Homo sapiens: one gene and its partner. The protein of the gene in region 1 interacts with the protein of each later gene in a pairwise test. Each region holds a gene or a part of one and is shown in the gene's direction. Other genes may lie near its edges.

Region 1 (3,495 bases):
CACCTGATCAAGAGCAGTGCTTCTCCATTTGTTTTGCAGAGAAATGTTTTTCATTTCCCGTGTGTTTCCATTTCCTTCTGAAATTCTGATTTTATCCATTTTTTTAAGGCTCCTCTTTATCTCCTTTCTTAAGGCACTGTTGCTATGGCACTTTTCTATAACCTTTTCATTCCTGTGTACAGTAGCTTAAAATTGCAGTGATTGAGCATAACCTACTTGTTTGTATAAATTATTGAAATCCATTTGCACCCTGTTAAGAATGGACTTAAAAGTACTGCTGGACAGGCATGTGTGCTCAAAGTACATTGATTGCTCAAATATAAGGAAATGGCCCAATGAACGTGGTTGTGGGAGGGGAAAGAGGAAACAGAGCTAGTCAGATGTGAATTGTATCTGTTGTAATAAACATGTTAAAACAAACAAAAATTGTTATTTTTCTTTTCCTTCGGTCAGTGCACATTAGCATTTGAACTACCTGGGGATTCTTTATCAGAACTGTTCTTGTTGAATATTTATACTTAATTGAAATAATTCCTTAAGGGAGGTTTTGTTTAAAACGTATTAACAGGAAATTGTGTATGAGATATTTAATGAAATAAGAAATTCAACAAGAATGATTAAGTCACTTCCCAAGTGGTTGTCATTTGTTAAACCCTGGTTTACCTGTCTTGCTATTATGACATTTCATTTGGAAGGATGTTTGTGTTGTAGCTAACTGTTCAAGTCTGGTGCTGACTGCTGTTCTTAGCCATCACAAAACGCTAAATTTGTGTAATTGGAGCTTCCTGCTGTTATCTGGAAATAGCAGGAAAGCGCAGCTTTGTATATTGTTTCCTAAAGTATATTAAAATAAAAAAAGAAACTATTGCTACTATAAAATTACCTTGACTTTTTTTTTCCTTTGCTGAAATATTAGTCACATAGCCTTAGCTTCACACTGCCAGTAATGTATCAAATCACAAGGGTTTCCGCATGAAAAAAATCTTTTCTTCCCCCACAAAAAAACCTTTACCATCAAAATCTTGCCATCTGATTTAGAAAGGTGTTTCTTCTTCTTCTTCTTTTTTTTCTTTAAATTGGTTTAGGGTTTTTTGGTGATTTTTTTTTTTTTTTTTTTTCTGTTGGGGCAGATAAGTGCTTCCAAAACTGGCAGCACCAAGGGCTTATTTTTTATGTTAGACATCAATGTCAATGTTACTACATTCTCGGATGCTAACATAAATTTTGAAATTGCTCTTGTGCTTTAAGCATATATTGAAAGTATGGAAGTTAAATGTTCAGGCTTTTCAGTAAGCTCAAAAAGTTAACTGTAAGCGATAGTGTTGGTGTTTTCTAAAATACAAAAATGTTCCAGTGTAATTAAAAGGAATTAAAATCTTGAAGATATTTTCCTGTAATTTAAGGATACTTTTTAAATGTAAGAAAAGACATGTCATTAATTTATTGTCATGTTTATACCTCTGTGAGATTGTTAACATCTGCTGAATTTAACTAGTGCATGTAAATGAAACCCCAAAGAGCTGTGTGTTCAGCTAGAAACCTTACTGTATCTTTCCTGGAAAGAAGTGAGCAATTTGTTGTAATAGGCAAATGTTTCCTGATCAGATGGCAATTTGTGATTTAGGTAAATTTGAATTTGATTTGCTTATAGTCTACTGGTCTGTGTACCTATGTTTTGTTTTTCAAAAAAGTTTACATCCCTAAATGAATTAGTCACATATATTTAGGAGAAGATGCCTAATTTGGTATTTCTTAATAGTGAATTTTTTTTTTTCTTGAGACAGAGTTTCACTCTTGTTGCCCAGGCTGGAGTGCAATGGCACGATCTCGGCTCACCGCAACCTCTGCCTCCTGGGTTCAAGCGATTCTCCTGCCTCGGCGTTCCGAGTAGCTGGGATTACAGGCATGCACCACCACGCCTGGCTAATTTTGTATTTTTAGTAGAGATGGGGTTTCTCCATGTTGGTCAGGCTGGTCTTGAACTGCCAACTTCAGGTGATCTGCCTGCCTTGGCCTCCCAAAGTGCTGGGATTACAGGCGTGAGCCACCGCTCCTGGCCAGTAGTGAATTTTTAAACACAGAAAATCTAAAATTTTGTGGAAATATTTTAAATATTGCACCTTAATACAAGGTATCCAGCTCCTAACCTTAACTAGGGAATATCTATTAAAATAAGCATAATGTTCTGGACTAGAGTATTCCTTATCTAGTTGGTTATGGATTTGAACATGTACCTTGGTTTAGATACTTTGAAAATAGAAGTACTGAATAGCCTCTAGGGAACTTGAGTGGCCTTTCCCTCCCCCTGCCCCCCCCCCCCCCCCCCCGTTTTAAAAGATCAGTAGTCTCTATTCAAACTTTTAAAATGTCGTGGTATTGTAACAATATATTTGATGAAAGAAGGTTACAGACTCCCCTGAAGAACCAGCTTTCCTACGCTTTTTATTTTTCTAACTTGTCTAACCTGATTTTAAAATGACTGCAATTCCAGACTAAAAACATGCTTCAGCCCTGTTTCAAGACATTATGCTTCTTTTAACAGTCCAAATTAGTAGTTTTATTTTTCTTCTAAATCTTTGTTTCACACTTGTAAAATCTTGGGAAGGAGGTTCTTAAAACTTTGCCAGGAATTGTTACCCATTTCCAAAAACAGTTTATTATGTTCAAAAACCACCATATCTTTGAGGGACTGTTTGAAAGGGGAGAGGGCAACGCGGGAAATAATTCACTCTGCGCACCGGAACTATTGTAGTTCAGGACTTCCAGCTACTGTATTTAGATGTTGGGTTTGAATATACAGATTTCTTTTCAATACCTGTAAATATGGCTATATTCTTGTATTTGTACGGGAGTGTACAAAATGACACTGAAAAGTAATAAATATGTTTTGACTATATTGTGCAGTTATTTCAGAACTGTGTTTTGAAAGTCTTAGAATGCATAATTTGCATTTGAGTAAGGAAATTTAAAATACAGATTACTGCTGAGATTTTAATCAGTCGGTGTGTTTCAATAGTCTCTGAAACATTTTAGTGAAAATTATGACGTAAAATTGGGATTCTTTAGGTCCTGCTCTAATTTGCGGTACCCTCCTTTTCCTGATCACGACCTTTGATAGTGCCCTAAAGTGCAGCCTGTCTAGAAGATCTCATCCAGGCTCTTGGCTCTAAAAACCCCTTCATGTGCTACTTTACATCCCGATTATCTCCAGCCCTGATCTCTTTGAGTTCCCAAAAACAGTCCACTTAGATGCTTTCCTTAACACGGCATGCACTCCAAAAAGAACTCACGGTTTGTGCCTCAGATTATTCTCTTTTAGTTTTTTAGTAATTGACACCATCATTGTTAAAGTTGCCCAAAACCCAAATCAAGTCATCCTTCTTTTCTAACACTCGATATTTAATCCATCAAGACCCACAAGCTCTTTGAAAATGTTTCCTTAATGTTCACCTCTCTAGTCCAATCCACGATCATCTTTGAACCAAATCCCTGCCA
Region 2 (9,464 bases), about 94 Mb from region 1:
CTGGGTGACACGGGCTGGCTGTGGAAAGGTGTTTGGTGGTTCCCGCTGTTGGATTTGCACAGGCCCAGATGCTCACAGCAAAACCAACACCTAGATGGTGCTTACAGGAGCCAGCGGGTATTCAAAGAGCTGTTCAGATCTTAAGTTGCTTCATTCTCACAGTGGACCATTGAGGTAGCTGTACGTTAGTCCCATTTTCCAGATGAGAAAACTGAGGACCTGAGTGGTCATAAGCTCAGGCCCTCATCTAAATCACGCAGCCTGGCCCCAGGTGTGTGCTCTTGACCATGGACAGTGCTCTCCTGGTCCTCTTGGTATCTGTGATCTGAGGGACCTTCCTCCTCCTCAGTCTCGTATAGTCAGTTTTAGGTCTTGGACTCTGTCTTCATATCCCTTTCTCCCTTCGTGAGCTTTCTCACCCAGCACCTTCCTTATTTGGTGTGTGTTGGGGGATATTTGTGGTGTGGCGTGGCACTGTGTAGTGGATGAGAGAGTCTGTTTTTCCGATCCCAGTCCCAGGTTTCAAACCCTGCTCTGTCTCGAGTCACCCAGAATCTTGGACCCTCAGTTTCCTCATCTGTTAAATGGGCATGGTGGTCACCCCACCTCATCAGCTAGTGTCTGCTCCATCCCTGGTGGAGGAGATGACTCAAGTAACCCCTGGGTTCCACCTGCCCCACCCCACTGGTCCCCTGGCTCTTTCTTTGTTGAGATAGACGAATGTGAGGCTCTGGAGTTGCAGTTCCCACGAGGGCTGGGGTGGCTGTCTGATTTCTGGGCCTGGTCCATGTTGTTCAGGGCAGCTGCTCGTTCTAAGTGAATAAAGGCTGAAGGAACTCGGGAGGTCTGCTCGGCTCCGAGGAAGGCAGAGAGGGAAAGGGCCCCGATGCCTTCCCTGATAGAGCTAGGGAGGCCCTTCTGTGGTTCCCCCCAGCTCCTTGGCCTGGGTGACCCTGGAGCTGGCTTCTGTTCCATTTTGTTGTGCAGAGTTGTTTGAGACTCCTGGCTTTGCCTGGCCTTTGTGGGACGCTGGAGATCAGGGCTTCTGGAGTTGGCCAATTAGCCTGCCCAGACCAGGAAGCACAGGTGGCTGACAGAGGGCCGTTTCAGGAGAGGAGAGACAGCCTACCTATTCGGTCTTGCTGTCCCCATGCTCCATCCCTGCCCCTGACCAGTGTGGCCCTGTACTCAGCATAGGCGTGCACCTGAGTCAGTACAGTTCCCTGCCCGCAGAGCACCCCAAATATTCCAGGCCTCAGGACGGATGTGCACATGATGAGTCGGGGCAGGTTTCACTGCCTGTAGCTTGGGATCCTTCCCTGGGGCTTGGTTCTCTAGGGCCATCCCCAGCAGTCTCACCCCAAACCCTAAATTCATGTTGTCTTCCTCTGTCTCTTGGCCTCAAGGTTTCAGAGTGAGTCTGTGCTGATAGCTTCAAGATGTGATGAGACCCCGACTTGGCCTCCAGTTACCTCCCCACGGTTTCCTTGGTGTGTGTGTGGCTTCAGTGTTCACTGGCTCCCGCACGGCTTGCAATGTGTGGATTACGGGTGGGAGGGAAATCCAGTCCTGCCCGCAGCAAAGGGATGTTAGTTGTGAGCTCAGTTCCCCACCGGGCCTGGTGTTTCCAAATAGCCCGTCACTGTCCCTGCTTGGTTTTCCATGATATCTGTGCCTTTACCTATTTGGTTAAATTAAACCAACTCAGCAACGCCAGCCATTGTGGTTTCAGGGCAAGCTGCCTGTCCTGCTGCTTGGCCGCTCCTCAGAGCTGCGGCCGGGAGAGTTCGTGGTCGCCATCGGAAGCCCGTTTTCCCTTCAAAACACAGTCACCACCGGGATCGTGAGCACCACCCAGCGAGGCGGCAAAGAGCTGGGGCTCCGCAACTCAGACATGGACTACATCCAGACCGACGCCATCATCAACGTGAGCCTCTGTCCCTCTGCGGGTGGGGATTGGGGCAGAGTTTTGCCAGGGGGAGAGGAGTCAGCATAGGTCTTAGCCCCTGACTTTGTTGTAGTCTGCGTGAAGGGATGGAACTAGACCAAGCCATGTGGATTCTAGTGCCAGCAGCATGGCAGGGGTCACATGGCGGGGACGGTGACACCGGAGCAGGTGGACAGCCAGCCTCCTCCCAGGAGGAAGAAGTTGTATTGGGTGCTTTAGGGTGATTGCAGTTGGCTTCTGGGCTTCAGAGAGAAAATCTCCCTGTTTACGGCACCTCTAAAACTTTCTGAAAATTGTTAAGGTCATTTTTTTCCGGCAAAATATTAGGTTAATGGGAATGAATCTCAGAGAAGAATCGTGCCCCCCACTCTAGGCACCGTGCTCAGGAAACGACCAGGCAGGGACATAGATTGAACCATGTTATGACACGATTTGTAACCTTTTCATTTCTGTTTAATTGCAGTATGGAAACTCGGGAGGCCCGTTAGTAAACCTGGTAAGGTCTTTTAAACCTATGTTAGGTCATTTGTTTTTATCTATGTATACGCTGTTTTTTGTTTGTTTGTTTGTTGTTTGTTTGTTTTTGAGGCAGGGGGTCTTTTCAAACATAAGGTTGCCAAAGTGTATTATAAATTCCTTTAAAATGGCTCTGTAAATGTACTGCGTGCTTGCAAATGACCCTACGGATCTTTTCTGGAAAGAGTAAGGCAGGCCGGAGGTGAGGGTTGGAAATGTTATGCCAGAGAACACACTTGTGTCTCAGAGTTACAGGTAAACACCGTGAAATTCAGGGCCAATGCAGGAGTAAGGTGAAGGTCACTAAAAATGCTGGCCAGTCACCGAAAGCACCTCCTCCAAATTAAATCTCCTGGGCTGCTGAAGGAGCTGGCTGGGCTCATACACATTTTCTCTTGGCCAGGAATCCTCCCTTAAGGCCTGGCTGGAATGAGGAGGAGTTACCCACCCACAAAGATATCACTTAAGTCTTCCCTTAAATACTTGAGCAGAAAAAGTGAAGCCTTAGAACACAGACCAGCAGAGCTAGAGGGCAGCTCTGGGGCCATTTATAGAGGGCAGCTCTGGGGCCATTTATAGAGGGCAGCTCTGGGGCCATTTATAGGGGCTGTCTTTAGCAAGGCCCAGTGTGATGGCACCTCCTAGATGGTGCCTTGGCATCAGGTACTGACATCTCAGCACTCCTGGGAAGTGTGCACTTGGCAGCTTTCTCTTCCCAGCAGAGGGGCAGCTGTGCTCCCAGCTCTGTCCTCTGCCTCCCCGCGCAGCACTTGGGGATGGAGTGGAGATGGCTTTGCTGGTAATGAAGCATGACAGCCCTAAGCTCTAGGGTTGTTTCCCCCTGAAGTCAGCAGAGTCATCTTAAGATCATTAGACATGGGAGAAGCAGGAAGGTGTGGGCAGCCACCTAAAGGAGTTTGAGCCTTTGGAAACGTATTCCTTGTGAAACAGGAGCAAATCATATCGTGCATTTTGAAACTATCTGTGCTTACCGTGAGGTGAGCACCCAGTGCCGACCTGGAGTATGTGCGATTCTTCCACAGCTGCGCGTGGCTCGCGCTGCCTGGGTGTCCTGATGCCTCTCTCCCTGCTGCCACGGGGATCCCCTCCTTGCATCTCCCCACTTCGATCTCTGAAATAGCTCAGGGACTTCTTTCAGGCATATTCTCTCTGGGTGTGTACCTGCCGGTAAAGCTTCACGATTCAGTAAGCCGTGTCCTTCTTGCTTTTCAGGACGGTGAAGTGATTGGAATTAACACTTTGAAAGTGACAGCTGGAATCTCCTTTGCAATCCCATCTGATAAGATTAAAAAGTTCCTCACGGAGTCCCATGACCGACAGGCCAAAGGTAGGCAAGGCCCACACAGCCCTGGGGACTCCGGAGATGGGGCCTGAAGCTCAGCTGCCCTTTGGGACTTGGGGAAGGGAAAAGCGGCAGCCCCTAGGACTAGCCAAGCCGTCTCTGATCCAGAAGTGAACGGGAATGCACATTACTAAATCCCTCGCAGAAGGTCACAGACATTTCACCATTTTTGTCCTCTGATCATGGCAATGTCACTTGAGTCAGTCTAATATGTACCAGGCATGATCCTAGGTGACTTGTGTACATTATTTCACTTTCTTTATGTATGTCACTTAATTCTTTTGCCCTATCAGTTAGGAATTACTAGTCCCATTTTGCTGATGAGAAAACGGTTCAGGGAGATCATTCTGCAAACGTTTATTGCCCCATCTGCTCTAAGTCAAGCAGGGAGCTTGGCAGTGGACAGCTCAACTGGGGCCTGGGGCTCAACAGGGGCCTTTGCCGGTGTGACTTTTATGTTCTGTTGGGGGATGGGAAGGCTGACAGTAAATAATCAAACACATAAGATACTATTAGTGCTCCCAAGAAAACGGATCAGGGTGGCCGTCAAGGGAGCGACTGGAGGGGCAGCTGGTGGAGATGGTGTGGCCAGGAAATGCCTTCCAAGCTGAGGTCTGAGTGAGGAGGAACCAGCGGGCAGGGATGTGGGGGGAACACTCCAGAAGGAAAGACAGAGGACTCAGCATAGTTGAGTGAGCACAAGGCCCCTGAAGTGGCCTGAGGGCCGGAGCACAGTGACAGCATGGAGTTCCCCGGGGTGGAAAGAGGCCAAGGCCGGGCGAGCAGGCTCACAGCAGGCCGTGGTGAGGGACCTGGGTTGCATCCTAACGACATTTAAGAACAGGGAAGTTTATGATCTGATTGATGTCACTGAAAGGACACTCTGATGGCTGCGGGGAGTCTGCTGGAGGGGTTGCTGGAAGTTGGGGACCGGTTAAGGGGCTCTCCCAGCCATCTGGATGAGACATGCTGGGGTCTCAGACAAGGGTGGTGGCAGTGGAGGTGGGACAGAGGGGTCACATTCCAGATATATATGGGGGGTAGAGCAAGCTTGGGGAAGGGCCAGCTGTCAGGATGAGGCCATGAGGAATTAAGGGTCATGCCCAGGTACCTGACCATTAATTGAAACAATGGGACTTTCCCAAGGTCCCCCAGAGGGGAGGGGTCCAGACCAGGATTTGAGCCGCAACCTCAGTGTACCCTTCTGTGGCCCTTCCTGCAACCTGGGGGATTGGGCCCCCGGCCCCTGGTGTCCCCAGCACCCCCACCAACTGGGCTGACCTTCTGCTGTCCCTTTGTTGTCTCACCAGGAAAAGCCATCACCAAGAAGAAGTATATTGGTATCCGAATGATGTCACTCACGTCCAGGTGGGTAAACAGGATGCGTGTCTGTGTCTTAAATTTTAATAAACCTGAACTTCAGAAGGTGCTCACGGGCACCCCTGAAAGAGAAACCTTATGCTGCCTTAAGACGTCTCAGTTTCTGCTTATAATGAAGTAGCATCGGGAAAGAGGACAGGTCATTAGCCTTGGCCCCTTTGTTTGGTTTTAACCTGTGTTTTTGCATTCTGAGCTGGTTTTCTTCACTGGCAGCAGGCCCTCCGGTGTAGAAGGTTCTGCCCTCCTCTTTGAAGGCAGGCCTGAACAGTGTGTGCGTGGTGGGGCTGTTGATTCACTCTGGCTCACGTCTTCCTTACCCCACATTCTGTTGAAACCCACATTCCAGGAGGGCCCCAAGCCCCTCCCGCAGCTCTAGGCACTCTGCTTTCGTTGCTCTGCAGCTCGTGGGCCGCGGCTCCAGGAATGCCAGGGCAGGTCCAGCGCAGGGAAGTGAATGACTGATGTGCTTGTTTTCCCCGAGCTGGTGGAATTGCGGCCTGTGGTTGGCAGGCTCATGGCATCCTGGTGTTCTAAACTGGATGAAAAATTCTGGTGTAATCTCATGAGTCCTGGTAGTAGACTCACCTGGCATGGCTAAAACTGTCAGAGGTAAAGTAGGTAAAGACTAGAATATAGTAACAGATAGATTAATGTGTTCATTACTATGATGAATTAATGATTCACTCACTGTGAAAGTATTAATATATTTTGATACATGTTATGAATGGTGGTCCCTTTCTTAGCACTCCAGAAGATGGAGCCATTTGTCAAGGTTAAAGTGTCCCCTCAGTTGTTTGCCTTTGGAACTACGAGGTGTAGGGAAAGATGGTAAGCCCTTGGTGCCCAGCTTCCTGGGTTCCTGTCCCTGCTCTGATATGTCCTGCCTTGTGACCTTGGGAACGATATGACCCCTGAGTGCCTCAGTTTCCTCCTCTTCAGGATAGGGATGACAGCGCAGGTGCTTCTGATGTGTGGCCAGGCTCAGATCAGGGAGTGGTGGCAGGGGTCACCAGCCACAGTGATGCCAGCCACTATGTATCACACGTACTGGGCCAGGTGCCTTACTGGGATGATCTCATCTGATCCTCACAACTCATGTTGTAGGGTACTGTTATTATCCCCATTTTGCAGGTGAGGAAATGAAGGCACAGAGAAGTTAAGCAACTGTCCGAGGTCACACAGCTAGCAAATGGCCGAGCTAGGGCTGCAAACCAGGCCAACCACTGTACTTTACTGACTCCTTAGTAATAGCTACTATTAATTAAGAAATAATAACAATGATGATGGCTGGGTGCGGTGGCTCACATCTGTAATCCCAGCACTTTGGGAGGCCAAGGCGGGCAGATCACTTGAGGCCAGGAGTTCGAGACCAGCCTGGCCAATTTGTGAAACCCTGTTTCTACTAAAAATATAAAAAATTAGCCGGGCTTGGTGGCAGGCACCTGTAATCCCAGCTACTCGGGTGGCTGAGGCAGGAGAATTGCTTGAACCCGGGATATGTAGGTTGCAGTGAACTGAGATCGTACCACTGCACTCCAGCCTGGGCGACAGAGCAAGACTCTGTCTCAAAAAAAAAAAAATAAATAAAAAAAATAAATAAATAATAAAGCACTTTCCTTGCTGTTACCAAGTAAATCTTTGACTCTGGTAGACAGGCAATTTTAATTTTAAAATAGGATCAGAATTCCTGGAGGAATTTTACCTTAGACCTAAGGAGAAGACGGGAACTGGTGAGAGCTGAGTTTTGCGTGAGGAAGGCCTGGTGTTTCTTCACACTAACACGGGTGCTTTTTCTCTGGAGCAGCAAAGCCAAAGAGCTGAAGGACCGGCACCGGGACTTCCCAGACGTGATCTCAGGAGCGTATATAATTGAAGTAATTCCTGATACCCCAGCAGAAGCGTGAGTTGGAGTCGTTTTCTCTTTTCCCAATATTCTTGTTGTTCCTGTGGGGGTAGCAGGAAGAGGGAGCGCTGTTCCTTTTCTACTGGCTCAGATGATTATGTTGATCCTTGACAGACGTGGTCGGACGTTGCTTGTCATTCCTGCTGGCCAGGCCTTCCGACCTGGCTCGGCTCGGGACTCATCCATAGGAGGGTGCCTTCTGTCTTCAAAAGTCCTTGCTCCACGAGGACCCTCCAGATGGACAGAGCAATAGCAGACTCGTAATGAGTCTCTGAGATGGCCCGGCTGGCCAGAGAGAGGGTTTCAGGAACAGTGTCCCCAAGCCCTCACTTGGTGGTCCTTTTCTAGGCTTCAGGACCCTTCTCTTCCTGGAGTCTTCCAGAATGTCTCTGACAATTAGGCCCATACCTGTCAACACCTCCAGAAAAATAACCCAAGTGATATCAAAGTAACATGACAAGAAGTAGCTCAACCATCCATCAGGGTTTGTTACCTGTATTGGCGGAATATCCAGAGAAAAGTGCGAGACCAGGGACCAGCAAATGTGCCTTGGGGGCTGGATCTGGCCCACTGCCTGCTTTTATATGGAGCTGTGGGCTAAGAATAGTTTTTGCATTTTATTTTTATTTTTACTTATTTTTTATTTTCATAGGTTTTTGGGGGAACAGGTGGTATTTGGTTACATGAGTAAGTTCTTTGGTGGTGATTTGTGAGGTTTTGGTGCACCCATCACCCAAGCAGTGTACACTGAACCCAATTTGTAGTCTTTTATCCCTCATCCCTGTCCCAGCCTTTCCCCTTGAGTCCCCAGAGTCCATTGTATCATTCTTATGCCTTTGTGTCCTCGTAGCTTAGTTCCCACTTATGAGAACATTTAAATGGTTGAAAAAATCCTGAAATAAGAATAGTATTTTGTGACATGTTAAATTTGTATGAAATTCAAATTTCAGTGTCCACTGTAATTTGGTTTATGACATCTATGGTGGCTTTTGTGCTGGAACAGCAGAGTTGAGTAGCTTCAACAGAGACCATATGTACTGCAAAGCCTAAAATATTTCCTATGGAGCCCTTTACAGAAAAAGTTTGCAGACCCTTGTGCTAGCCCATGAAGGACCATGACAGCGTTTTGACGCTGAGCTATATAAGAGCTACAGTTATAGTGGCAACCACACAAAGGAAGTGCCTCTTAACAGAAACATTCCGCCCACCCCTATAGGAACTGCATTCTGAGTTGCAATACCCATTATAAGCAAGTTGGCCAGATAGTGGCCAACTATCTGGCAGATATCTGGCCAACTACGTGGCAGATAGTACCTGGTACATCCTTCCCCACTTTGGGGTCAATCTTGACCTTTGATCTCCTTGGGGTCATAAAGCCACACAAGTGTTAGTAGGCATTTCTACAGTGGACACAATGGATGATTTAGCCTAAAAATCTCAAAAGGAGCCCAGCATCCTGGCACATGCATGTAATCCCAGCTACTCAGGAGGCTGAAGCAGAAGGATCCCTTGAGCCCAGGAGTTCGAGACTAGCTTGGGCAACAATTGAGACCCCATCTCAAAAAAAAAAAAAAAAAAAAAAAAAGAGTGGGGAAAAAAGAACATTATTAAAAAAAAAAACCTTAAAAAGTAATCCAATCTACCGATGGTTTATTTTTTATTTTATTTTATTTTTTTTGAGATGGAATCCCACTCTGTCACCCAGGCTGGAGTGCAGTGGCACAATCTTGGCTCACTGCAACCTCCACCTCCTGGGTTCAAGTGAATCTCTTGCCTCAGCCTCTGAGTAGCTGGGATTACAGGTGCCCACCACCAAACCTGGCTCTTTTTTTTTTTTTTTTTGTAATTTTAGTAGAGACGGGGCTTCACCATGTTGGCCAGGCTGGTCTTGAACTCCTGACCTCAGGTGATCCACCTGCCTCAGCCTCCCAAAGTGCTGGGATTACAGGCATGAGCCACCGTGCCTGACCCACTGATGGTTTGAATTATTCTAAGTTCGCCACCGTCCAATCCTGTTTGCTCTGGGCTTTTAGGTTCTAAGCTGTGCCTCTGTCCATGTAAAGTCAGACCAGGAGGAATGGAAACACGAAACATTGCCATTGTGTTTCCCTTTGTGTTGCAGTGGTGGTCTCAAGGAAAACGACGTCATAATCAGCATCAATGGACAGTCCGTGGTCTCCGCCAATGATGTCAGCGACGTCATTAAAAGGGAAAGCACCCTGAACATGGTGGTCCGCAGGGGTAATGAAGATATCATGATCACAGTGATTCCCGAAGAAATTGACCCATAGGCAGAGGCATGAGCTGGACTTCATGTTTCCCTCAAAGACTCTCCCGTGGATGACGGATGAGGA

The links. The genes of interacting proteins can lie anywhere in the genome.
Region 2: the proteins of WAC (region 1) and HTRA1 interact in a two-hybrid assay, tested with the Homo sapiens proteins (one study listed by IntAct).

Annotation. Positions count from the first base shown.
Region 1 is NC_000010.11:28,620,118-28,623,612, forward strand, and holds the end of WAC (WW domain-containing adapter protein with coiled-coil), read left to right. Parts: 3' UTR 1-2,995; downstream 2,996-3,495.
Region 2 is NC_000010.11:122,504,959-122,514,422, forward strand, and holds part of HTRA1 (serine protease HTRA1 precursor), read left to right. Parts: intron 1-1,732; coding exon 1,733-1,927; intron 1,928-2,411; coding exon 2,412-2,444; intron 2,445-3,697; coding exon 3,698-3,812; intron 3,813-5,137; coding exon 5,138-5,195; intron 5,196-7,011; coding exon 7,012-7,107; intron 7,108-9,232; coding exon 9,233-9,401; 3' UTR 9,402-9,464. UniProt on the Homo sapiens protein: Serine protease with a variety of targets, including extracellular matrix proteins such as fibronectin. HTRA1-generated fibronectin fragments further induce synovial cells to up-regulate MMP1 and MMP3 production.